Linked DNA regions of Homo sapiens. The protein of the gene in region 1 interacts with the protein of each later gene in a pairwise test. Each region holds a gene or a part of one and is shown on either strand. Other genes may lie near its edges.

Evidence for each region.
Region 2: the proteins of PAK2 (region 1) and ARHGEF6 interact in binary tests that used the Homo sapiens proteins (3 or more experiments, as listed by UniProt).
Region 3: the proteins of PAK2 (region 1) and RHOJ interact in binary tests that used the Homo sapiens proteins (3 or more experiments, as listed by UniProt).
Region 4: the proteins of PAK2 (region 1) and NCK1 interact in binary tests that used the Homo sapiens proteins (3 or more experiments, as listed by UniProt).

The regions. Positions count from the first base shown.
Region 1 is NC_000003.12:196,798,854-196,805,883, forward strand, and holds part of PAK2 (serine/threonine-protein kinase PAK 2), read left to right. Parts: intron 1-3,073; coding exon 3,074-3,174; intron 3,175-4,163; coding exon 4,164-4,311; intron 4,312-6,498; coding exon 6,499-6,530; intron 6,531-7,030. UniProt on the Homo sapiens protein: Serine/threonine protein kinase that plays a role in a variety of different signaling pathways including cytoskeleton regulation, cell motility, cell cycle progression, apoptosis or proliferation.
Region 2 is NC_000023.11:136,742,928-136,749,957, reverse strand, and holds part of ARHGEF6 (rho guanine nucleotide exchange factor 6), read left to right. Parts: intron 1-2,365; coding exon 2,366-2,450; intron 2,451-4,610; coding exon 4,611-4,735; intron 4,736-6,171; coding exon 6,172-6,373; intron 6,374-7,030. UniProt on the Homo sapiens protein: Acts as a RAC1 guanine nucleotide exchange factor (GEF).
Region 3 is NC_000014.9:63,207,426-63,214,455, reverse strand, and holds part of RHOJ (rho-related GTP-binding protein RhoJ), read right to left. Parts: intron 1-7,030.
Region 4 is NC_000003.12:136,921,180-136,928,209, forward strand, and holds part of NCK1 (SH2/SH3 adapter protein NCK1), read left to right. Parts: intron 1-6,804; 5' UTR 6,805-6,822; coding exon 6,823-7,030. UniProt on the Homo sapiens protein: Adapter protein which associates with tyrosine-phosphorylated growth factor receptors, such as KDR and PDGFRB, or their cellular substrates. Maintains low levels of EIF2S1 phosphorylation by promoting its dephosphorylation by PP1.

The DNA.
Region 1 (7,030 bases):
GAAGTGTTCAGCAAACTTGGAATAGAAGAGAATGCCCTTTAGCCTCATAAAGGACATCTTTTAAAAACCTACCATTGGCATTAAACTTAAGGGTAAAAAGAATGACAGTTTTTCCTCTTAGATCAGGAAAAATAAAATTTCTCTTCATCCACTTTTATTCAACAATGTACTGAAGGGTCTAGCTAATGTAGTAAGGCAAAAAAAAATTTTTTTTAAGAAAACGAATAAAAGGAATCCAGATTGGAAAGAAGTAAACTTGATTTTATTCACCGACAACATGATTGAATTTTTGTAGCAAAATTGTATATTTACAAAAATACTAGTGGAAGTAAGTGTAATAAGGTTTCAGGATATAAGATTAGTATTCAAGAAACAACTGTGTTTCTTTATGGCTGCAATGAATGATTAAAAAGGGAATTTTAAAACTGCCATTTGCAATAGTATCAAAACCAGGAAATACCGAGGCAGAAATCTGATGAAACAGTGTGCGCTCTGCACTGATAACTACTGCTCTGTTTCTAAGTGTCCCCCAGAGTTCATGTGTTAGAAACTGAAGCCCCAGTAAGAGAGTGTTGAGACATGGGACCTTCAAGAGGCGACGCGAGTGCTCACGGATGGACTCATGTCTTTATTGTGGATGCGAGTTGCTTATAAAAGCCAGTTTGGCCCTCTCCTGCTCTCTTTCTTGCAATGTGATGCCTTCGGCTACGTTATGACACAACAAGAAGGACCCTCACCAGGTGTGGCTTCTTGGTCCTTGACCTGGAGGACTTTCCAGCCTCCAGGAGAACTGTGAGCCAAATGAACTTTTATTTTTTTGAGGCAGTCTCACGCTGTGACTCAGGCTGGGGAGTGCAGTGACACAATCTCGGCTCACTGCAGCCTCCACCTCCTGGGTTCAAGCAATTCTTGTGCCGCTATACTCGGCTGAAGTTTGCATTTTAGATACAGTGTTTTGCCATGTTGGCCAGATGGGTCTTGAACTCCTGGCCTTATGTGATCTGCCCACCTCAGTCTCCCAAAGTGCCAGGATTACAGGCATGAGCTACTGCTCGCAGCCAGCTTCTAATGTTTATATTAATCAATTGCATAGGCAGTGGTATTCTGATAAAGCGTACCGAACGGATGAAGACAACTGCAAACACTGCTGAGAGAAATTTTTAAAGACCTAAATAAATGAAAAGATTTGCTGTTTTCATGGATCAGAAAACTCGGTGTTGTTAAGAAATCAAGAAATAAATTCTCAGCCAGGTGCAGTGGCTCATGTCTGTAATCCCAGCACTTTGGCAAGCCAAAGCAGATGGATCGCTTGAGGCCAGGAGTTTGAGACCAGCCTGGCCAACATGGTGAAACCCCATCTCTACCAGAAATTATAAAAATCAGCCTGGTATGATGGTGCATGCCTGTAATCCCAGCTCCTCAGGAGGCTGAGGTAGGAGAATTGCTTGAACCCGGGAGGCAGAGGTTGCAGTGAGCTGAGATCACGCCACTGCACTCCAGCCTGGGCGACAGAATGAGACTCCCTGTTAAAAAAGAAAAAGAAAGAAAGAAAGAAATTCTCCTTAAAATTCATCTGTATGTACATTCATTCCAATTCTAGTCAGAATTCCAACAGGCTTTCTGTAGAAATTAATAAGCTTATTCTAAAATTAATAGGGAAATGCAGAGGACCTCGATTACCCAAACAGCTTTGACAAAAGAAAAAGAAGACTTATGTGACATAGTTTCAATGCGTATTACAAAATGGCAATAAAATAATCAAGGCAGTCTGATAGTGGCATAAAGGCAGACAAACAGATAATTGCAACAGAGCAGAGCCTTCAGAGATAGACTCACACGTGTACAGACAATTGACTTTCAACAGTGGCTCCAAACAGGAACCAAAATGGCGCTGGCCTTCTAAATGGCAACACTGGAAATGCTGAGGGTTCCAACTTATATATATATAAAATTAGTGAAGAACTATCACTAAAGGGATAAATCAAGAGGAAAACGTAAGATCCAGAAAATAGATTCCAGCACATACAGGGCAGGAGTGAAGGGATGTCATGGACGGTAACTGCAGGAAGCGTAGGCATGAGCTACTGCAGATTAGAGCAGGAGGAGCTGAGAGGGAGGGGGTAGGGGGAAGGAACTGATGTGTTGGAGTTCACAGAGAACATTATTGATAGGTGTGTGGCAGAAATGTTGCAGAAATAATTTACAATCGGACCATAGAAAAACTGCATAGTTTTAAAATGTGGCAATTAGTAACTCCACTAAAAAAGGATTATGCTTGCACAAAAAAGGAGAGGTGGTTTTGTCAACTACTTGTCTTGACAGTGTGTATTATCTGCGGAGTCACAGTAATGCAAATCTGACTTCCTGATGAATGTAGCTGAGTGGAAATGGGGTTTGCTGTGTTTGCTGTCCACATTGCTCAGCATCTGAGATGTAGCCCTTTGTGAGAGAGCTGGTGCCCGAAGGGGGTGTCTCTTCTGCCTGTGCTCTGTTACTCAGGCCTGCCGTTGGTCACTCCATGTGCCTCCTCAGTGTTTGGTTGTGTCCAGCCCTACTCTATGGCAGGACAGTCTGCTTTACTTCATTTACTAGTTTCCTATCAGCCAGTTTTTAGGGGAAATCTTTTCTAGAATAACTTTGATTCTAGTGTGTTTTCTAGAATAACTTTGATCCTAATATGTTTTAGGAAAAATATAAACATAATATGCCGGGCATGCGGTGGCTCACATCTGTAATCTCAGCACTTTGGGAGGCCAAGGCAGGTGGATCAGGAGTTTGAGACCAGCCTGATCAACATGATGAAACCCTGTCTCTACTAAAAATACAAAAATTAGCCGGGCATGGTGGTGGGCACCTGTAATCCCAGCTACTTGGGAGACTGAGGCAGGAGGATGGCTTGAACCCGGGAAGCAGAGGTTGCAGTCAGCTGAGATTGCACCACTGCACTCCAGCCTGGGCAACAAGAGCGAAACTCCATTTAAAAAAACAAAAGACAAAAAATAAAATTATAAGTGCCTTTACTAGTCTTGTTTAAATAGGCTGATTCTTTCTCTTTTTTTCTAATGCCCCCTAGGAAGTAAAAAGAAAGAAAAGGAACGGCCAGAAATTTCTCCTCCATCTGATTTTGAGCACACCATCCATGTTGGCTTTGATGCTGTTACTGGAGAATTCACTGTAAGTTAACCTAGTTCGGGCCCATTTATAACGTTTAAAATAGCACTCAAACATTTTCCTTCATTATTAAATTTGAAATTAACATTTCAGGCCAGGTGCGGTGGCACACGCCTGTAATCCCAGCACTTTGGGAGGCCAAGGCTGGCAGATCATTTGAGGTCAGGAGTTCGAGACCAGTGTGGCCAACATGGTGAAACCCCATCCCTACTAAAAATACAAGAAAATTAGCCAAGCGTGGGGGTGTATGCCTGTAATTCCAACTACTCAGGAGGCTGAGGCAGGGGAATCATTTGAACCTCGGAGATGGAGGTTGCAGTGAACAGAGACTGTGCCATTGCACTCCAGCCTGGGCAAGAAGAGTGAAACTCCGTCTCAAAAAAAGGGAAATTAACATTTCTATCTATACGTTAACTATGAATTCTTACTGCTTTTTGCTTTTTATAAAAGTGTTAGTGGTTGGATATATCGTTTTCCTAGAGAGCAGAGCCTATTAATTATAGTTATGCAAAACAGACTTAGAAAAAATAGACCTAGGCCGGGCGCGGTGGCTCACGCCTGTGTAATCCCAGCACTTTGGGAGGCCGAGGCGGGTGGATCACGAGGTCAGGAGATTGAAACTATCCTGGCTAACATGGTGAAACCCCGTCTCTACTAAAAATACAAAAAATTAGCCAGGCGTGGTGGCGGGCACCTGTAGTCCCAGCCACTCTGGAGGCTGAGGCAGGAGAATGGCCTGAACCCGGGAGGTGGAGCTTGCAGTGAGCCGAGATCTCGCACGACTGCACTCCAGCCTGGGTGACAGAGTGAGACTCTGTCTCAAAAAAAGAAAAAAGAAAAAATAGACCTTTAGAAAATGAGATCTTTTAAAATTTACTCAAACCTACACTCAAAAGATTGGTTTGTTTTGTGTATTTTGTCATTTATCTCTGGAAATTAATTTTATTGCATCAATTTAAACCATAACTAATTTCTGAATATCTTCTTGTTAGGGCATGCCAGAACAGTGGGCTCGATTACTACAGACCTCCAATATCACCAAACTAGAGCAAAAGAAGAATCCTCAGGCTGTGCTGGATGTCCTAAAGTTCTACGACTCCAACACAGTGAAGCAGAAATATCTGAGCTTTACTCCTCCTGGTAAGAGAGTGGCATAAGGCTGGATCAGATGGAGATTTGTGAAGCACTTCTAGATAAAAAGATTACTCCTGGAAAAATGAAAAGCTAAACTATGGTTCTTGTTGATAACGGTTTTTCCCTGGATAGATTCTACCTTTTGTAGACTGATCCAGGGCAGTTCTGAAGCATAATTTGGATCTGTGAATTATAGTAATCTCATAGGTTTGCCAGAAACGGGAGTTGATGGATATTTTGGCTTTTTGTTTATTTGGTTTTTTCTCCTCATTGCTGTGTTTTTGTTTTCATTTTTCACTCTTCACTGCTTTTAAATGACTTCCAGCAATCAAAGGAAAAGACGCTGGTTGATAGACATGTTCATACTAGAAACACATTTATTGTTAGCGGGACAAGAGGAGGTTGAACTAAAAAATGTTTAGGTCCACTCAAAAAATTGAAACTCGCAAGTGTGCAGATAATAGAATATATGTATTTTAATATATAAAACAGATAAATCATATACGAAAGAAGCGTTAGAACTAAAAGGATTTATACCTCAGAAATGGAATATCTGGAATATCATCTACATAGTCACAGTAATGCAAATTTTACTTTCTGGATGAATATAGCTGGATGGAAATGGGGTTTGATGTACTTTGTTTTCCAAGTTGCTCAGTATCTGAGATATACCGTTAACCTATGAGAGAACCAGTGAATTGGTATATAGTGTAAGAGTTGGTGTAGTGGATTTTTAAAAATAGTTTTTGTTCAAATAAAGATCAGAATAAAGTTCATACAACGCAGTTGGTTGATACATCTCTTGAATCTCTTTTGATCTTTAGGCTTCCCCTCCCACACACTGGTTCATGCTGTCTTTTCTTGACGTTTATTTATTACAGAAACAAGATCATTTGTCCTGTTTCCCTCAGTTTAGATTTTGCTCACTACATCCTCAGGATGTCATTTTTCAATATGTTTGTCTGTCTCTGAAGTCATACATGTGGTTTTCAAAAGCAATATGATGGAGCTAAAATCGTACATGTGGTTTTAATTGATTTTACTTACTGTTTGCATCCTCACAGAAACAAAGGCCATGTGCAAGGGAGAAATAGAAATCTTTTTCAAGTGATCTTGACCTTTTTTTGTTGAGTCTAGTACACCGTTAGGAAAAGGTCACACTTGCTCCTAGAACTTTTCTATCAACCAGTAAGTCTGTGTGTAAATTAGTAATTTTTTTGAAAAACCAATGTTTGACCACAAAATGGTAGCTTATTTTCACCTAGTACACATACATACATATATGTGTGTGCGCACGCGCGTGCGTGTGTGTGTTTTGTTTTGTTTTTGAGCTGGAGTTTACTCTGTTGCCCAGGCTGGAGTGCAGTGGCACAATCTCGGCTTGCCAGAACCCCCGCCTCCCGGGTTCAAGCAATTCTCCTGCCTCAGCCTCCTGAGTAGCTGAGATTACAAGCATGCGCCGCCACACCTGGCTAATTTTGTATTTTTAGTAGAGACTGGGTTTCTCCATGTTGGTCAGGCTGGTCTTGAACTCCCAACCTCAGGTGATCTGCCTGTCTCTCGGCCTCCCAAAGTGCTAGGATTACAGGCATGAGCCACCGCGCCCGGCCTGTGCGTATGTAATATGTGATATGTGTGTGTGTGTGTGATATATATATATATATATACACATATATATATATATATACACACACACATATACACACACACACACATATATGTATGTCTCTGGGCATTTTTAAAAGAAAAACAAAACAATGTCAGAATTTTACTTTGCACAATTGTCATTGTCTTAATTGTTGCATTAAGTTCCTCAGTCAGCAGTTTTCTGGAGAAAGTATCTTTATCAATAAATTTGTTTTGTTTTAATAAATACAGATTGATAGGTATACTTTCAAACTAAATTTTGATAGCTTTATTGAGGTATAATTTACATGCAATACAATTCACCCATTTTAAATATATAATTCACTGATTTTTACTAAATTTATAGTTTCATGTAGATTTCAGATTTCTTACCTTGGTCTTATATAAATTCTTATTTGACTACTTGCGTGTTCATTTTTCTCAAGAGTTAATTCAACTTGAAATCAGTTTAAGAACATTTCACTTTCTCTGCTTTTTTTTTTTCCTTTTATCATATAAAAGTGCTGTTTCTTGAATTGCTAATGTTATGTTTTGTTTCATATTCAGAGAAAGATGGCTTTCCTTCTGGAACACCAGCAGTAAGTTAATTATATTATTTCTTGTATCTCTTGTTCTAATTTAGGTTACCCAAGACAAATCTCAGTTTTTATTTTGCTTTCTAAAATAAATTACAGCCATCAGAGGTAAATAACTACTCAATAGGTGTTTTTAGCTAGCCACCTGATTAGTTGAAGAAGCCGTATTAAATAGAAATTCCTTGATGTGATACTTAATGTAACTAAAATTTATAATGACCTTCAGAACAGTTTAGTTAGTTTTGGTAATGTTAACATATACAAACGTGAACACAAAGAACTTGCTAGCATATATTTTCCTCTCCATCCCTCAGTTTTCCTTCTGGTACTATTTTACTGAATATAGACTGTGGAAAGGTGCTGAACAGTTGAACCTTGTCAGTCTTCAGAGTCATCTGAAACTTAAGTTATCGCATAAACACAGTCAGTTTTTGGAAACAGTCGTTTTATTTGCAGTTTCTCAATTGGGAGGAAACAGTCTCCTGGAGTTTTATTTTTTTATA
Region 2 (7,030 bases), on another chromosome or scaffold:
AGAAAGATCTAGGGTGGAATTTTCAATATCATTCAATTTAGGACTTAGAAGGTATAGTGTGGTGAAGGGTGTTTGTGGTTGTATCTGATTCTCCAGCTACTCTGAAATAATAATGCTTAGGCGTTGCTTTCTCTAGCAGTTCCCAGAGGCTTCTTCCAACTCCTTCCTCTGTAGTTTCTAGTGCCTCAGAATAGGCTTGCAGCAAGAACAGTGTCCATGGATAAACTTGAGTATATTGGGGTTTTCTCAAAAGAGAACCGAGTACAGTTCAGGAAACTTCCCTCAAGCAGATGCAATGACTCTTCTTGATGCACATTTCATTTTCTGATTAGTTTATTTATTTTCAAAATCAGTCAAGTACTTGTACAAGTGAATAATACCAGTGTTGCCATGTATAGGCATTTAATAACCCTGGATAAGGAACAACTAAAACCAGAGGGAGAGGTTTTTTATCACAACTTTTGCTCTCATGCCTTATTCTGCTAATATTTAACTTCTGCTTATTATTTTAGATCTACTCATCTCTACCACACCCACCCAAAACATGTATCCACATGCACACACACATGCACACTCCCATTAGGACTGATGGGCTAAAAACAAGTGATTTTTTTTGCTTTGCTACTATTTTGGCATACATGTCATTAACATTTTCCCAGTTGATCAGTTCTAAGGGAGACTCAATAAGTCTGAAATCCCCGGAGATACTAGACACTCTCTCTAGTCTATTGCCTCTTGTTCACCCAGGCTTTGACAAACTAAAACAAAACTCTTGTCAATGTATTTCTGGAAAAGTTTGAATTTTATATTGTAGCATTCAGAAATATATTTGGAATGTGTTGTTGTTTAACTCTTTAGTAATATTAGCATTACTCTTTTACCAGAAATATATTAATGTCTCATTTTTAGATGCATCTGGGCTTTTTGGTCATTTTAACTTTGAATGCAAAATATTCATTGATTAAATGAATAAAGCAGTGAATCCTAGAATAGGCAGACTTGTGTAGGTTTGCATTTGCATGTATCTTTATTGACCCCCCAAAACGTGAAAAATTGATATTATATATTTTCACTCTAAAAACAGATTATAGGTTTTCAAGAACATGTACAAAAAAGATAGAAATTTGTCTTGATATGGTTCCCAGAAAATATGCAGCTTAAAAATGGAACAAATGGCTCTACCTAATGGGAAGACAGACCCTTTAAAATCCTATGCCCATTACCAATCATGTCCCATATGAAAAGGTACATTTTATTTCCATCACCACATTTGGGGAAAAAATGATGCAATCTGTTTTCTTTAAGAGACTTCTAGACATCCTGGAACAAAATGTTTTTAGAAGGGGCATTTCCATCCAGAAGGTGGGCATCTGGTTACCTTCAGATATGCATACTTACATTGTTGGCTGGCAAATTAATAGATTGTACCTGTGCATGAGAACACTTCTAATTTCAAATATACATATTTGAGACTCAATATATTTTAACACACTGACTACATTTCAAAGGTAACAGGTAAATTGTATTGAAAACAACATCTGATTGGTATCTTCACTGGGGACAATAGCATATCAGATTGACAGTTGACTGGTAAAGTGAAATGTATTTCCTTAATGTGTTTTTTGCCAAGAGTTGAGTAGTATTAGACAGGCCAGAGGTCATATTTGGGAAAGTCATCTAAAGCCAGGAAGAGCCCATAGGCCCAGGCAGGCAAATACTTGAATTCATGATGAGCTGAGAGGGGCAAGGTCAAACAGCAGAAACAGAACTGAAGCTGGGAGCAAAAGGCAGACCTGGGCAGAAAGTTTGGGCAACATGGAATTGGGATCCTAGGCAGTTGGGATGCAGCGGGTGGCAGTTGGGAGGAAGGAGAGCAGAGAAAAAGGCACTTTTGACAGTGACTCAACTAGGCACAGCTAATAAACTGTACAGATGCAACCATGTCAAAAAGGCTCCACCTCCTTATTTATGGACTGTCGAGGACATTATGTAGGTGATGGGCATTGATTGTAACCCATGCATATGAGCTTCCTGTAACTGGGCTGAAACTATTGATACATTCAGGCCAGAAGAGTGGGTCTGAGTATGCACTGTTTATTTCCTGGTGGGCGCTGCCTTCTCAGCTTGGCTCTCATTTCCCATTACTGCTTTGCTCTGACTCACTGATGGCCTGCCACATGTCATTAGGCGGCTCAACTGCTGCTCTCATTTCTCCCAAAGGTATATGGAGGTTTGTGTCTTGGCTTCTACACTTTTTTTTTTTTTTTTTTTTTCCGGAGAGCTGGAGGAAGTGGCCTTTTGATAGTTTTGTTTGTTGAGTTGAATACTTGTAGTGTCTTACGGTTTCAATTTTCCTTTCTCATAGATATTTGATCCTGATGACCTTTATTCAGGGGTCAATTTCTCCAAGGTACTGAGTACTCTTTTAGCTGTCAACAAAGCAACAGAAGGTAAGCCGGGCTTGTGATTTATATGTTCTGGGTGACATTTTTGAATCCATGTGTTTGTGATTACCCTAGGAGCCAACTCTGGCCAGGATTGTTCTCGTGATGCAAATTTTCCCCTTGCTCCCCCAAATACACCCCAACAAATGTCAAATGCTTGAATTTTTCATGGCTTAGGATTTAAAATATACCTATCATAGATGTTATTCTAATGCCCTTAATATAATGATAAGAACTAAGAAACTATTCCATTCAAAGCTCTGAATCACCAACTGAGTATAACAAAACAGAGAAGAAAAAGGAAAGACCAGTTCCCTTTTTCATAGAGTTTACAAAATACAGCCGTCACTTCCCTTTCCCCACTAGAGACATATTTTTCTCATTGTTTTATGTATGCCTTTGTCCATGTAAAGGAACCCCTCAGTAGCCTTGCACCAAAAATGAAATCTTGGGGTCATAGGGAGTGAAAATAATATCTTTTATTTAAATGTTTAACACCTACCACACTAGAGGTATTAAATATAAATGCTAGTAAATGTGAAGAAAATGATGATACACTTAGAATGTAGCTTCACTCCTTCCCTGGTATATTTTACCAACAGCTGAATAGTAATAATCATACTTAAAATGCTTTGAGCTCTTGCCCTGGATCTAGGCTGTCATAAGAGCCACAGGTGATCTCATCCAATCCTTGAAACAACACTGGGGGTAGGTATTATTATTATTAGGTCCATATTACAGATAAGGAAAGTCAGGCCAACAGTTGCCCAACTAGAAAGTTAGTCGCTGAGTTGGGATTCAGACCCACATCTGAATGACTACAGAGCCCTTATGCCCAAGCACGAGGCTTGCTGCTCAAACTGTTGTAGAGTCAAGAGGCTGTGTGCCCAGCATCGCCAGGTGCTACAAAAAATGTCAAAGCTATGGTCCCTGCCTTTGAGAAAATTACTGTCTATTTAAGGAGACTCAACTTACCCACGTGAAACAATTAGAGGACAAGAGCAGACAATATAATCAAGTGCCAAATAGGTTAGAGCATCTAGGAAGCTATCGAGTAATTATAGTTTTTGTCAAAAGAGCTGTATATAATAGCAATACAAGTAAAAATACTTCTCCAAAGTTGTTCTTTTGCTATTTGGAAAAAAAAATGCTTTTGAGCTATTGCAAGGCGTATAGCTGAAAGTACAGCTAATTCAAGTAACTATATTTAACACACATGACAACTATCCAGTTCTAGTCAGGGAGGATCGTGTAATTCTAACATTATGCCACACAAATTATACGTTCCTTTGCCAAACTCTCCTAGCAAGTTTTACAGTCTCTTCCCTTGCCACAGATATTTATAAAATACAAGGAGGTGAAAGTTAAAACCCACAGCATCAAGGAAATTACTTGGATACTGAGCTTGTCGCCTAGGGAATGTTTGGGCTTTAGACTTTTGCAGTTTATATCTTTTAAAAATAAATGGAGAGGAAAAGAACCCTTATTGAAATTTGTCAAGAAGCCAGCTCCTCTCTTTTGTATACTCTCAACAAACTGAAAACATCCAGCTCAGCTCTGGCCTGGTCGAATTTCACAAGGTTTCAAGGAAGAGAAGACTCTTGAATCTGATTGTTAAAAAAATTATTCTAGTATCAAGATTACATCTTTCCCAAACACATCTTCTCTTTCACTCTCATTCTCCACCCTGCCCCACACACATCAGGGAGATTTTACATCATATATGCCACACATATTGTTACGTGTGAGTAAGAAATGAGCCACTGAGTTATGGGCCAAAAAACAAAGAGAGAAATTTGAAATATTTCAAAGTAATAAGAGCCACAAACAGCTGTTTGGTACCCAATATAGTTCTGCCTTGGATAACAGGGCATACTGTTGCAACTGGTTCAGGAGGGAAGAGTTGTAGGGAAATGGTTAAGAGAAAATGTGGTTCTGTCGCTGTTTTTCATTCTACTGGAGCACGATGGCCAGTAAGGTTAAGAACAGGAAGTTGGCCACCAAAAAGGGAAGGGGGATTGAAATACACTTGGCATGTTCATAATGATAACAGTTAGAATTACAGCCAGGATGCCTCTGATAGTATCCTGAGAAAGATAATGTTATGCGGTAGATGTTTTTCTGATCTGAGTGGTTCCTTTAACATGCCTTTTCCTCTTTTCACAGATCAGCTATCAGAAAGACCATGTGGACGTTCCTCTTCTCTTAGTGCTGCTAATACTTCTCAGACAAACCCACAGGGAGCAGTTTCTAGCACAGTTTCAGGGCTGCAAAGGCAGTCAAAGACAGTGGTAAGTATAGTCCCCAATTCTCCGTCTGTTTTAAAATCCATAAAATTAGATTGATATCCTAGTTGCATCTCCATATGTGGTGAGACAGCCATCCGGGTTGTTTTGGGCATCACTGAGAAAACTAATTATAAACCGAGCACCAATTCAGGCTGGCCCGAAGGAGCAAATCAAAGGCATGTGGTGGGGCAAAAATCCGGATTGAAGCTCCAGCTCTGTCCCTTACGAGAATTAGGCAAGTCACTTAACTGAGAATGCTATGCAAATGGAAGTCATTATGGCTACTTTCTGATGGCAGTTTGCTGTTAATTTCCCTATCCCTTGTTTTATTAGAACTAAATAGTGCCTGACACATAGTAGGCAATCAATAAATATTGATTAGTATCCTCATTATTATTGCCATTTTTATTTTTCTCTTTCCATTCCTAATGAGGAAGGCTTGATTTTAAATTTCAGTCTATGATGAGCTTCTATATTAGGATCTCCCAGTTGCCTTTTCACTTGCTCTTATTGGGAGCTTTTATTTGGGAGGAAATGCCTCATCTTCTGCTCTTTGGGTGAAACCTTTATTTCCTGTCAAAAGCCACCCACTTGCAGTAAGACATTATGACCTATTACTTCCAAAGCACTTGAGCATGTGGTTCTTAACTTTTTTGGATCACAGATCCCTTTGAAAGGCTGATGAACACTATGTCTCTACACCCCTGGTACCCTCTCAAATTGTATACAAAAGCCCATGTGTATGAACTTATTTAGACAAAAATATGTTGTGCTCATCAGATTCTCTAAAGGGTCTGTGACCCTCAAAAAGGAAGTCCAGTTTATACATGACAGATTAAGAATTCCTGACTTAATATATCCATGTAATAAAACTGCAGTTGTACCCCCTAAATCTATAAAAATAAAAAAATGGAAAAAAGAATTCCTGACTTAGGCAACTATGGGTTATTTGATCTTTGCATATAAATAAGTCTTAGCCAAATTAAGATATCCTTAGTAATTAGGAGATGGGAGGCAGATTTTATGGAGGGTAGGTTAGTACATCTTGGTTATATAATTATGTGGACTGTTTGTGTGTTGAGTAGAGGCAGGGTGGAATAGCTTATCCAGGGTGGAATAGCTTATCACTCTACTTTGTTATCTGGCTTAGTTAAATAGATAATCTTTAGATAATGGGGAGGGGTGTGGAGAGAAAAATGAAAGCTATGACCCACTTCAAAATACAGATTCTCACAAATGCCAAAGTTTACATACTGTTTTGAGGGATTTATTAATCCCTCTGAGACCCATTCATGGATTCCTAAGTTAAAAACTCAGGACTGAGATGGATCTGGGGTTTTGTCTTTGCTTCCTCCACTTTATTTGCCTATATCCATATCATTTCTACCCCTGCCTTATTTAGATGAGTGCTTAATCTGGTGTGGCTTTTGTTTCTCTAGGAGATGACGGAAAATGGAAGTCATCAGTTGATAGTAAAAGCAAGATTCAACTTTAAGCAGACTAATGAGGATGAACTGTCAGTTTGTAAGGGGGACATCATTTACGTCACACGAGTTGAAGAAGGAGGCTGGTGGGAAGGCACATTAAATGGGAGAACAGGCTGGTTCCCCAGTAATTATGTCCGTGAAATTAAATCCAGTGGTAAGTGAAGTTTTTAAAAGGCTTTTTGATTGTGACTCTTGTACTTTCTTGGTATTCTTACTGAAAATTGTGTAGTTTTAATTGGTTAACAGAAGCTGTTTATACTTGTATGTGTATGCCAAAAATAAGAGTAGAACAGAACTGGGAAAAATCTGTGATTAGATATTTTGAAACAAATTGTATTTAGATTACATTAAGGCAGCAGAAAAATAAAAAAAGCAAAGGAATTCAAAGCTCAGACAACTGGTCCACCCTAACTGTATCCCTTTATGTCTACTAATTCTAGCCCATGTAATATAGTACATAGTCCTTCTCACCACTCTAAAACTTACCATGGCAGAATCCAATAATAAGAGAGGCCATGTGCTAACTTCCTTTTTTTAGCCTTAAGCCCTGTAAGCAGACCTGAGACTAAATGCCTCAGACATGAGAGATAATAATGATAGGGCTGCAGGAAGCTGTCTGGCCGCTTTGATGCTGAACAAGATTGCCCTTAACTCACTGAATACTGCTAGCTGTTTACCTTTTTTTTGTAACAATAGCCAGAGAATGAAATCGAATTGCTCTTCAGTAGTCTTTTCTTCTCTCTCTCTCTTTTTTTAATTATTATTTTTAGACAGGGTCTCACTCTGTTGCCCAGGCAGAGTGCAGTGGCTA
Region 3 (7,030 bases), on another chromosome or scaffold:
CTTTTTACTGATGGATGGTTGACTATAGAATTGCTCCTTTTGGCTTGATTCATAGGCACCATTACAGCATAAAGAAGGGTTTTCTGAACCTACTAAGTCACATTAGCTGAAACTATATACATTTGTGATATCTAAATGGGTTTGAACTCTAAAACAGCAGTGTCACAAGTTCTACCTAATTAGAAATTTCTATGAAGCTTATTGACATTCATATTCACAGCTCTGTCTCTAAATGGGTCTGGTGTAGAAGCCCTTACATGGACCCAAGAATCTGCATTTTTAACAAGTAAGCTTTTCTTATGGCCAGGCAAGTCTGGGAAATATAGGTATGTCATATGTAGTGGAATAAATAGGGAGTTAAACATGGTGCTAAGGCAGTTGATATGTTTATCTGTGCGTATTGTATTTGGTATAAGCAATTTCAACTTAATGACTGTGGTGAAGATGACTAAGTGTCTATTAAAGTCTGTTTGTCCCTTCTTTGGGCACATCGCTGGCCTTCCTTGTGATAATGTGTGGCCTACAGTTTAAGTTCTCTCCAGTGAAATGTGAACAGAAGTGATGCATGCCACCTGTCAGCCTGGCCCATACCACCACTCCCTACCCTTACTCCTCCATAGTCTTTCATCTTCTAGTGTCTAGATACAGAGCACCACAAAGCCCTAGATGATGGCAGGGTACCAAGATGGAAAAAAGTAGATCCCTGAATGACTACATGGAACAGAACTATCTCACCAACCTGAAGACCTGCCAAGGTCTCTTATATGACCAAAAGCAGGATTCTACCCAGCAATCCTATTACTGGGTATATATCCAAAAGAAAATATATCATTATGCCAAAAAGACACATGAACTTACATGTTCATTGCAGTATTATTCACAATGGCAAAGACATGGAATCAACATAGGTGCCCATCAATGGTGGATTGGATAAAGAAAATGTGGTACATATACAACACAGAATCCTATGTAGCCATTAAAAAGAATGAAATCATGTCTTTTGCAGCAACATGGATGCAGCTGGAGGCCATTATCCTAAGCAAAGTAACATAGAAACAGAAAACCAAATACTACGTTAGTTCTCACTTATAAGTGGGAGGTAGACACTGGGTACACATGGACAGGAAGATGGCAACAATAGATACTGAGGACCACTAGTTGGGAAGGGAAGGAAGAGGGCAAGGGTCAAAAAACTAACTATTGGGTATTGTACTCACCACCTGGGTGACAAGATCATTCATATCCTAAATGTCAGCATCATGCAATATACCCAGATAACAAACCTGCACATGTACCCTCTAAATCTAAAATACATGTTGCAATTATGTAAGAAAATAGGATTCTAATAGTTTGAACCCTTATATATTTTAGCCTATCTGTTACAGCATCTTAGCTTACATAGTAGTATGGTGCCATCATTACAAAAACCTAAAAATACATGTGCTGTTGGCTTAGCTGTTAGGTGGCAGATGGTGACAAAACAGAGCAGGTTGGAAAGATGATCTGTGTTATACTGTGGCAAAACATTTTGTAAAACTATTGTTTGTGAAACCTGGAAGGTAAAGCTACTTCCCACTGAGTCCATAGCACTCTATGAAGAGACCGGAAAATGACAGAATGTTAGTATGTATTAATTGTTATTTTACATATTTAGCAAGGTGTTATAAGAAAGGGAAGAGATGAATTGGTTGTTTTTAAAGCTGAGATTGATAGAACACAGATTTTCATGGGTTCAAAGAGTTAGAAAATGATTGTTTCTGGATTCCATTAATAGATGATACTATCAGGATTGTCATCAGAATTCTATTATTGCAATGTGTCTCCCATTCTTCCCTTTCTGAAAGGGAGTTTGAATGTTTTGATTATCCCATTCCTGTCCCACCACCGCATGGGGCAAATTGTGTATATGGGTAGATAATTTGTCTTTTATTGGATCACAAGGAATCACGTTTAGATCAAATGAACAGAATCATGCATCACTTAACAGATGCTGGTCTTTGACACAGTTGCAGTGCCAGAATGCAACTCTAGGTGGTCCTTCTGGGGAAAAGAGTGAGTTTTTTTTACATGTGGGAAAAAATGTGCAAGGATATTTGGTGGCCACAGAGTCTGATGCAGGCAGAGATTGCTAGCTTCCATCAAAATCCATTCTTCCCTCTTTTGGGCACAGAGGGGGGCTTTCCCTCCAGCCTCCTTTACAGTGAGGCATGGCCTTGTGACTAAATAAACTCCTATGCAGTGTGATTGAAAACGATGTTTGTCACTTCCAGGCCTGGCCCATAAAACTTTCCATTCAAGTTTCTCCATGCTGTTTCTCATTCAGCTGTGTGGATGCAGATAACTGAAATCCTAGGGGATGTCAGAGTTACCAGATGTGAGAAGCCTGAGACATTAAATGACCACATGGAAGAAAGCAGCCCTACTGACTTGAATACCTGCTCAGGAGCATCACATGAGCAAGGAATACCTTGCCATTGAGTTAATCCCTTACATGTTTGGTTTACTTGTTAATAGCAGGTCCTAACTAACAGTGGCTCTTTTATTGTTATTAGCTATACACTGCTCATATTGTTTACTATTCCATGGCCTCCACTTACCCCATTACAAGCAGTTTAGCCTTGAGGGAAATAGAGTAGTATCTTTGTGCCGGGAATTGTTCATCAGGAAAGTTGAGAAAATGATAGCACCTTATGATAAAGAAGGGTTGGCTTTTTGGTACAAGGTACAAAAATACAGTTAGATGGAATAAAATCTAGTATTCAGTAGCACAACAGAGTGACTATAGTTAACAATAATTTATTGTATATTTCAAAAGAACTAGAAGAGTAGATTTAGAATGTTCCCAACACAAAGTAATGATGGATGTTTGAGGTTATGGATATACCATTTACCCAGATTTAATCATTACCCATTATATGCCTATATCAAAACATCACATATACTCTATAAGTAAATAAGAACAACCATTAATGTATCCATAATTTTTTTTTAGAGATGAAGTCTTGCTCTGTTGCCCAGGTTGGAGTGCAGTCGCATGATCATGGCTCATTATAACTTTGAACTTCTAGGCTCAAGGGATCCTTGTGCGTTGGCTTCCCAAAGCACTGGGATTACAGATATGAGAGACTCTCGGGTGTCTTCAGAAAGAGCAAAAGAGAAACTTATGAATAAATTTTCCCAAATGAGCAGAACTATGTCACAACCTTTTATAAACCTGGGACTTTATTTTTATTCACTATTTATTATAATTATGTTATTTTTTCCCCCTGTGGATTGGACCTGTTTCCCACTCCCTGCTCTGGCCATTAAGGTTATGACTGTCTACCTTGGGCTGATCACCATTTAACTAAGTGGAAAAAGTTAGAACTGACTTTCAGCTTTCTGTAAAAACAACTTCCTTTTACATCTCAATCAGCTGATAGAGTAACTGGATTTCTCTTCTTTCCATGAATTGTGTTAATTTCCTGCATAGGCAGCCTGGGTTTGCAAATAGTGGCTTCATGTGGTTTTCCAAATTTGATGGCTTTCAACAAAGAAGCTCTAGGAGGGTGGGTGATAGAAGAAAGATTCACAGACAAAATAATACAGAGGATGGTGGAAATGGTGAACATCGTAAAGAGGTTTCAGCTGGAATGAGCTTATTTTACACACCTATGTACCCCGACATATAAACCATGTACACAATCTAACTCAACATACAATCTAAATTCAAAATGGAGCTCTTATCCTTATGCTATATGTCAAGTGAAACATTAATCGGTAAGAATATTTTACCAGTGAGGGGTCTGCTACAAAACTCAAAACTAAAGATAGGATGGGGGAAGAAATGCAATTCTTCCATGGTAAGCTGTGAAAGCTCTAAAGGTTGTTGGGACGCGTTGAGTCATCCCTGGAAGGGAGTAAGGAGCAGAGCCCAGGGTTGTTTCTTAGGCACACTTGTAATAAACAAGAGTGACTTTTCCCACCTTCATCCCACTGCTCCTACCCTTTAGACCTAGCCGTCAGCCGAACTTAGGGTTACTCTGAAATATGCTCTGTATATTAGAACTAGAGGAGTTTGAGTGAGGCACCCAAAATGTATGTCAGCTTTTGAACATAATGTAGATGAAGGAATCCCAAGTGATATTTACACATTATATAGTTAAGCTATTCAGTAGATGTGACACTGGCCACTTAGGTCAAGAAAATTCAATGCTGGCTGGGCGTGGTGGTTCACGCCTGTAATCCCAGCACTTTGGGAGGCTGAGGTGGGCAGATCACGAGGTCAAGAGATCAAGACCATCCTGGCCAACATGGTGAAACCCCGTCTTTACTAAAAATAGAAAAAAATTAGCTGGGCGTGGTGGCACGTGCCTATTGTCCCAGCTACTTGGGAGGCTAAGGCAGGAGAATCGCTTGAATCTGGGAGGCAGAGGTTACAGTGAGCTGAGATTGTGCCACTGCACTCTAGCCTGGTGACAGAGTGAGACTCTGTCTCAAGAAAAAAAAAAAAAGAAAAAAAAGGAAAAAAAAAGAAAATTCAATGCTATATTACAGTTACAGTGGGGATAAAATGATTATTTAAAATATGAATAAAATAGTTCAGAAATATAATAAATATAATAAACATTTTTGTATGTTCATTCCTAAACAGATATCTATTGGACAAGCAATTTGTTCATTTATTCATCAAAGTTTTAATGGACCAGAAACTATCTAAGTGTTGGAAGGACTAAGATTGCAAAGACATAGTAATTCATTTATTCAGTTGAGAATAATCTGAGTTGAGAGTCTGTTGAGTGTCTATAATATGCAGGACTTTGTTTTTTGAAGCTGGAGATAGCAAATACATATATAATATCAGGTAGTATTAACTATTATAATGAAAGATGTGGCAAGATAGGTTAAAGAGAGAAAGAGAGTGTGTGTGTGTGCAAGCACACATGCATTAAATAATGTGGTCAATTGAAGCTAGGGGGGATCTAGCGGAATAGTATGAGACTGGGGAAAAAGCAAGTACAAACTCTTCAAGGGAAGGAGTTGGGTGTGCTTGAGGAATAACAAGATGGTGAGTGTGGCTAAAGCAAAAACACTGATGAGGAGAGTGTTAAGAGATGAGATTGGAGAGATAACAGGGACTGAGTCATGGAGTGCATCATATACAACATAATATAGGGTTGGGTCTGAGTGTTAAGGGAAGTGATTGGAGAAGTTGGGGTTTGGGACAGTCCCTCTGCCAGCTATGTGGAGAATTGATGATAGGGGGCAAGATTGGAAGTAGGGAATTGGGAATTGATTATAGTAGTTTGGATGAGAGATGATGGTGGCTTGGACAAGAATGAAGGCAATGAAGACGGTGATAAGTGATCAGGTTTGGGATGTATTTTGAATGTTGAGCTGATTGGTAGGAGGAAGGGATGATAACTAATGGTTTAAATGGAAAGGGAGGGGAATGTTGTCAAAGGAAGAAAGGAGTCAATACCAAAGTTTTTGTTTTCAGAAACCGGGTGGAAAAGAGTGGTCATGTACATACATGGGGAAGCCTAGGGGAAGAGTAGCTTGGGGAAGTTAAAAAATTCAGTTTGGACAGGTTAAGAATGAGATGCCTATTAGATATTCAAATAGTCGGATATATGAATCTGAGTCTCAGAGGGTTTTGATGATGGAGCTACAAGTTTTGCCGTTATCAGGATATGAATGATGTTTAAAGTTACAAAACTAGATACAATCAAGCATACCCTAAGTGTAAATAAAGAAGAGGACCCAGGGACTGAACACTGAGGTTTCAGTGTTTCCGAACATTTGGTGGTTGGGAAGACAGAGGGGAGGTGGCATTGGAGATGGAGAAAGATTTGCTGTTGAGTGGAAACAAAACCAGGAGAATGTGGCATCCCAGAAACCAAGCCAAGAAAATGTTTTAGGAAGGAGGGTAATGAACCATAAAAAAAGCTTCCAAGAGATCAAGAGGAGGACCTAGAATTGACTGTTGGATTTCACAGGACATGAAAGACACAGCTCCTTTCCCTTAAGGGGTTCCCAGCACAGCAGAGATGGGAAAATAAGGAAGCATATAAATTGTTATACAATAGTGGAAGATCCTAGAGATGTAAACAAATTTGTGAAACTGGATTGGAGATGGAACAGGGAATTATTCTTGGGGAGTCAAGGAAAGCTACATGGAGCAGATGTGCTTTTGGATTTTGGTAGGTAGGAGGTAGGGATACATCAGAATTCGTAGAACTTTAAAAATTGTTTTTTGTAGCTGGTCGTTGATTTTTCCTGCAAAAATAAACTCATTCAAAATAATTTTGCGTAGTTTTTACTCATGCAAAACTGATATTTCCCCTCCCAATTTAATATCCTATTACTATTACCTCATATAAACATATTGTTAATTATCAGTAAACATGGTAACTATTTTATGAAGAAAATACATACACTCCATCCTACCTTACTCTTCTAAAGGATACTCTTGTAATTACATTTTTCCTTCTTGTAGTCTTTATCTTTTAATTACATTTTCATTCCTTTTCCTGGCTGTATGCAAGTATCGAGACTGTATTCTTAATAGCTACCATGTACCTAACTCTTATCACACATGAGGCACTGTTCTAAGAACTTTACATATGTTAATCACTTTGTTCTCACACACAATTCTAATACCTTAATTGTCCCTGCTTCTCATTTGTGATAACTGAGGCACAGAGAGGTTAAGTAACTTGCTCAAGGCCACAAAGTAAATGACAGAGCCAGTATTAGAACCGGGCTGTCTGACTTCAGAGATCACCATCTTGCACAGTAGGTTGTATTTCCATCCTTACTATTTTATCTCTACTTTTCTGGGTTGGGCAGTTATTAGTAAAAAGTCTTCAATGGATAGGCTCTCTATGACTTAAATTATAGCTTCTAAAGTCTCAGCACTCAACTGCAGGTTGTCATTTTAAAGTAGGCCAGTAGGACCCAGGAATTAGATACTGGATCCAAATGGAGAAGAGGGCATTTAGTTTTTTACAATTGATTGTAGATTCTCACGTGACTGCCTAAGGATTTA
Region 4 (7,030 bases), about 60 Mb from region 1:
ACTTAAACTCTGTACCCATTAAACAGTAACTCCCCTGTATATAGATAGCCAAACTACCAGTCATGTATGAGAGAACAAAATCACTTTCAGATATGCATTCTAAAAAATTTAATTCCAATATATTTTTAACTCAGGAAACAACTAGAGGACGTGCTCCAGCAAAATGAAGGGTAAAGCAAGAAAAAGTAAGACATAGGATCTAGGAAGCGGAGGAACTGTGGGCAGTAGTTCCAATATTGGTTTCATTTTCTAAACTTTTGCTGTGGTATTTGCATCTTTGCTTTATGCAGGGATGTGTGGGGCTTGAGTGGTGTTTATATTGTACTTCATTTCTTAGTGCCTTTGTGATGCTTCTTTGGATATTCTATGCATGTCCAATTTGGGAGAGCCCAGTACTTGTGTTGGTCCATAACTAGAATTATAGATGTCGAAGATAAACTGGACACTAGTTAAAATGGTAAGGACAGATTTTATTCAGTAACTATTGCAGTAGGGAAGAGTGTCCAGTGTGAACTCAACTCACTTTTGCCAAAACAAAAGGGGAAGAGACTTTTTTAAAGGTTGAGTATGCTAAGGGAAAGACACTGCTAAGGGAAAGAAAGATGGTTTTTTTGTTTTGTTTTGAGACGGAGTCTGTCTCTGTCACCAGGCTGGAGTGCAGTGGCGTGATCTCAGCTCACTGCAGTCTCCGCCTCCCAGACTCAAGCAATTCCCCTGCCTCAGTCTCCTGAGTAGCTGGGACTACAGGCACGCACCACCACGCCCAGCTAATTTTATTGTATTTTAGTAGAGACGGGGTTTCACCATGTTGGCCAGGATGGTCTTAGTTTCCTGACCTCGTGATCTGCCTGCCTCGGCCTCCCAAAGTGCTGGGATTACAGGCGTGAGCCACCGCGCCCGGCCACTGAGTGGTTTTTAAGGGCAATAGGTGGTCCATGTGAGTAGGCCATCTGGGTTTGTTATTGGCATTTATCTGGAAGAGAAACAAACTTATTATTTATGACAGGAGGTGGTGGTACAAATTAGGCCCACCAATGTTTGGCCCTTACCCTCTCGCCAGGGACTGGGAACAAAAGTGAAAGTTATCTTTTTGATTGTTTGCATTCCAAAGAGGTAGTTCTCAGGTCCTTGGGAAGATAGTTCTTGATGGTAGAAGATTTAAGTCACAAAGGGACAGAGAAAGGATTTATAATTTCAAGCTTTCTAAGGTAACTGCTCTAAATGGGGGTTCAGGTGACCATCTGCCTATCACCAGGTTTTGGCTGGAACAAACGGTAAATTCTGGCCATGTGGAGCCTTTTCAGGTAAGGAACTTGATGGAGTTGGAGTCATTATTCTAGGATATGGGGAAAAGATATGAACAAGCACTTTACACAGAAAAACAAATGTAAATGTCCCTTAAATATGGGAAAAGAAATCACTGTAATAAGAGAAATACAAATTACAACTCTGAAATACTATTTCTCCCCTATTAGATTGGCAAAAATCCAAAAGATTGACAACATAGTTTGTTGGCAAGGCTGTGGGGAAATAATCACTGATATATTGTTAGGAGTTTTTAAAAATAGTTTATGAATACAGAATTTAGCAGTATCTCACAAAATTATACAAACTTTAGCTGTAACTCAGCATTCTTCTATGATTCTAACCCAAAGGTACACTAACAGAAAATCAAAATGACACATGTATGAGGCTGTTCATTGCAGCACTATTTAATCCCAGAAAATTACAAACAACCCATTGACCATCAGTAAGGTCTAGTTGAAGAAAGTGCTACTTACATAATGATGACGCACTCTGCAATTGTTAGAAGTAGTAGATGTATTAGTAAAGGAAGTCTCATGTGCTGCTGTGGAATGATCTTAAGGATAGATTGTTAAACTGAAAATGAAAAGATTCAGGCAATATAGTCTATGCCTATGTGTATGTGTGTGTGTGTGTGCGCGCCTGTGTGCATGTGTGTGTGTATGTTTTGTTGTGGGGGTAGATAAAAATTAGAATTTTCAATTTTCTTATATATTTTTCTTGAATACTTTCCTTAAATTATTTAAAAAAAAATAGAAACATAAACCAAAACAAATAAATAGCTGTCCAGGCCGGGCGCGGTGGCTCACGCCTGTAATCCCAGCACTTTGGGAGGCCGAGGCAGGCGGATCACGAGGTCAGGAGATCGAAACCATCCTGGCTAACACAGTGAAACCCCGTCTCCACTAAAAATACAAAAAAATTAGCCGGGCATGGTGGCGGGCACCTGTAGTCCCGGCTACTCGGAGGCTGAGGCAGGAGAATGCCATGAACCTGGGAGGCGGAGGTTGCAGTGAGCCAGGGTCGCTCCACTGCACTCCAGCCTGGGTGACAGTGCAGTGCGAGACTCCGTCTCAAATAAATAAATAAATAAATAAATAAATAAATAAATGGCTGTCCAGTGGGGTGGATGGGAGAGGGGAGAGAAAAGAGAAGGTATGGAAGAAGACCTCTCTAAATGTTTTAAATATGTTTGATATTTAAGCATATTTAATGTTTAAACATTCATATAAACAATATTAAACATAATGTTCAAACATGTTTGATATTTAAACATCTACCTTGCTTGATAGTTTAGCTTTTAGAACCATCCAAATGTTTTACATAATTATGAAACAATTACATTTTAAAAAGGGAAAATAAAGTGATCTTCAAAAAATGAAAACAAGTGAGCCTAACTCTACGTCCAGTTGGTGTCATAACCACACAGAAGTATATATTCTACCTTTTCTGTAAGGTTTTATGTTTTAGGGTAATAGAACAATAAGCAAAATTTTCCTTTGAGAATAATCACAGTTTCTGAAAGCAGGTAGAGCTAGCACATCATCATTATTGAAATAGTTGATCTAGGCAGTGATCATCAGTGGCAGGTAAAACCATTGGGTAGAGGTTTGATGGGGGAACTTTATAATAATGGATAAATCAGTTCAGTGCTACAAATCTACCATTCAGTCTTAACATCACAGAAAATGGTTCAGGCAGACATAATGTGCCTCCTAATAAATGGCAATAACAAGTACACAAGAATACTTAACGAATTATTCTTGCAACAATGACAAAACAACCTAGAAAAAGTAAAGCCTCTAGAAATAATTACCAGTTTATAGGAGATAGGGGGGATAGAGGAACACCATGAAAATATACACTAGCCAAATTCACGATGTGGGAAATGCTACAGGACAAGTGAAGCCAGCTTCTTAAATAAATGACATAGAGTGGGGAAAGAGAACAGTGTCAGAGACTTAAAACATGTTAGCTTAAGTGCAATATATCGACTTAGTTTGGATCCCAGTTCACACCAACTGTAAGAATGTTTAAAAAAATACACTTAGCAAAAATTGAATATTAGCATTAGATGAAATAAGTGTTGCAGGAGTTCTTAATAAAGGAACACCTTTTCAAAATGAGCTTTTGAAAATATACTGATAATTTAATTTTAGTATAATTGACTTGTTTGCAATCTTATATATTTTTATGCATCAGAAACATTGTGAGTAGAGGTTCTATGTTTCACCACACTGCCATTAGGCAGGAGGAGGGGAGGTCCATGGCTTAACCCATTTGTGCCTAGTGTTCCATTATTGGAACGCTAAGCTTGTGAGAGTTATTTATATCATGCTCAAGGTCGTCACCAAGGTCTGATTTTTCACACAAGAAATTGCAACCTCCGGCATATATGGGTTAAAAAAGGGAAAAGGTCAGGAGCCCTTGATTTGTTCATTTTTGAGGGGTATGGGTTTTTAATCTGTTAGTGCTTAATGAAATCATGGGATTCCAGTTCCCCCACCAAAAATTAGGGGGATAGCTGAACCACAAGGCATAATATTGATAAAATTGGGTGATAGGTATAGGATTCATTATACTATTCTCTTCTGTAAATGTTGAAAAGTGCCATAATTATAAAACTTAAAAGCATTATATAAATTTTTAGTTATTATACCAGTAATGTAGTAGAATGCTATTTTTGTACATTCTGGGGAGGACTAGATAATATTGGTAATACTTTTGTCACCCTGATAGGTAAAGTGTGGTATTTCAGTTTAGTTTTCATTTCTTTAATTATAAAGATATTCAGGATCTTTTGAATACTTTTTGACTATTTGTGTTTTCTCTTTCAGTTTTTATTTTAATTAAACTTTTTATTTTGAGATCATTATAGATCCACATGCAATTCTGAGAAACTTTAGAACTTATTGCGAGATCCAGTGTATGCTTTCCTCCAGTGGCAATACATCTGGCAGAAGTATAGTACAATATCACAATAATATTACAAAATTTCTTCATATTGCCCTTTTATAGTCATACTTACTTCCCTCCTGTTCCTGCTGCCCCGTTAACCCTGGCAACTACTAATCTGTTTCTAATTTCCATATTTTGTCATTTTGAGAGTGTTATATAAATGGAGTCATATAGTTAACCTTTGAGATTGGCTTTTTTCACTGAGCAGTTATAATTCCCTGGAGATTCATCCAGGTCGTTTTGTGCATCAATTGTTCTTTTTGGTATGAACGTACCAGTTTGTTTAATTATTTGCCTGTTGAAGGACATCTGGGTGGTTTCCGGTTTTTGACTGTTAGAAATAAAGTTGCTGTTAACATTCATGTAAAATGTGAACATAAATTTTCATTTCTCTGGGATAAATACCCAGGGGTGCAGTTGCTAGCTTGTATGGTAGTTGCATGTTTAGTTTTATGAGAAACTGTCAGACAATTTTGCGGAGTATCTGTACCATTTTACATTCTCATCAGCAGTATACGTGTGATCCAATTTCAACTTACCCTTGTCAGCATTTGGTATTACCACTCTTAGCCATTCTGACAAGCGTATGTAGTGACATCTCAGTGTGGTTTTAATTTGCATTTCTTTAATAGCTAATGATGAATACCTTTTCATCTGCTTATTTGCCATCTGTAAATCTTCAGTGAATGCCTCTTCATGTTTTTTTGCTCATTTTCTAGTTGGATTTGTTTTTCTAATGTTTCTTTAACTTTTCTAACTGCTTAAGATAGATACTCAGTTCATTAATTTATTTTTAGCTCTTTTTAAAATTTTATTTTAAATTTTATTATTATTATTATTATTATTTTTTGATACAGAGTCTCGCTCTGCGGCCCAGGCTGGAGTGCAGTGGCGCGATCTCGGCTCACTGCAAGCCCCGCCTCCCGGGTTCAAGCCATTCTCCTGCCTCAGCGTCCCAAGTAGCTGGGACTACAGGCACCCGCCACCACGCCTGTCTAATTTTTTTGTATTTTTAGTAGAGACAGGGTTTTACCGTGTTAGCCAGGATGGTCTCGATCTCCTGAACTTGTGATTCACCCGCCTCAGCCTCCTGAAGTGCTGGGATTACAGGCATGAGCCACCGCGCCCGGCCACTCTTTTTGTTTTTTAATGTTACTATTTAAAACTAAAAATCTGTCTATATACACTCCTCTTGCTACATCCCACAGAGTTCGATGTATAGTTTTTAAAATTATTTACTTCTAAGTATTTTCAAAATTCAATATGATTTCTTCTTAGATTCATTAGTTTTTAGAAGTTTCCAAACGTGGTATTTCAAAAGTTATCTTTTTGTTATGGTTGTTGGAGAATATGGTTGTAGGATATCAGTTACGTGAACATTGAGACATTCTTTATGGCCTGGCATTTGATTGCTTTTTGTATGTGTTTCATTTGTTTTCTATTTGGAAGCAATATTCTGTATATGTCTATTAAATCAGACTTGCTGGTTGTGATATGAGTTCTTCTCTAGCCTTAATAATGTTTGTATTTATTTATTTATTTTTTTGAGACCAAGTCTGGCTGTGTCACCCAGGCCTGGAGTGCAGTGGCACGATCTTGGCTAACTGCAACCTCCGCCTCCCAGGTTCAAGGGATTCTCCTGCCTCAGCCTCCTGAGTAGCTGGGATTCCAAGTGTGCGCCACCATACCTAGCTAATTTTTGTATTTTTAGTAGAGATGGGGTTTCACCATGTTGGCCAGGCTGGTCTTGCATTCCTGACCTCAGGTGATCCACCAGCCTCGGCCTCCCGAAGTGCTGGGATTACAGGTGTGTGCCACCAGGCCTGGCCGTTTTTATTTCTTTGTTTTGTTACTCTGATAATATGTTAAAAATTGTCCTCTGTGGTAATGGGTTTGTCAAGATCTCCTTGTGGTTCTGTCAACATATTTTGAAACTATCTTGTTACTAGGTACATAGAAGTTTAGATATTGTAATTGAGTAGAACATTTTTCATTGGGTAGTGAACTTTATTGCTAGTAATGGTTTTTGCCCTTTAAGTTTTGTTTGATACTAATAGAGCAACACCAGTCTCTTTATTGATTGGTTGATTGATTGATTGAGACAGATTCTCCCTCTGTCGCCAGGCTGGAGTGCAGTGGTGCGATATCGGCTCACTGCAACCTTCGCCTCCCAGGTTCAAGCTATTCCCATGCCTCAGCCTCCTGAGTAGCTGGGACTACGGGTGTGCACCATCACGCCCAGCTAATTTTTGTATTTTAGTACAGATGGGGTTTCACCATGTTGGCCAAGCTGGTCTCGAACTCAACCTCAAGTGATCTGCCTGCCTTGGCCTCCCAAAGTGCTGGGATTACAGGCATGAGCCACTGCGCACGGCCATACAGTCACAGTCTCTTTAAATTACTATTTGCCTCATGTATTTTTTTCCATATTTTTTACTTTTCATCTTTATGTCTTTAGATTTTTAGGTGTGTCTCTTTTGAAAAGCATGTGAACTAATACTACCTCAACCTTACATAAAAATATTTTCCATGTGTTTACAGTGCTGAAGCTGCTGAAAGATGGCAGAAGAAGTGGTGGTAGTAGCCAAATTTGATTATGTGGCCCAACAAGAACAAGAGTTGGACATCAAGAAGAATGAGAGATTATGGCTTCTGGATGATTCTAAGTCCTGGTGGCGAGTTCGAAATTCCATGAATAAAACAGGTTTTGTGCCTTCTAACTATGTGGAAAGGAAAAACAGTGCTCGGAAAGCATCTATTGTGAAAA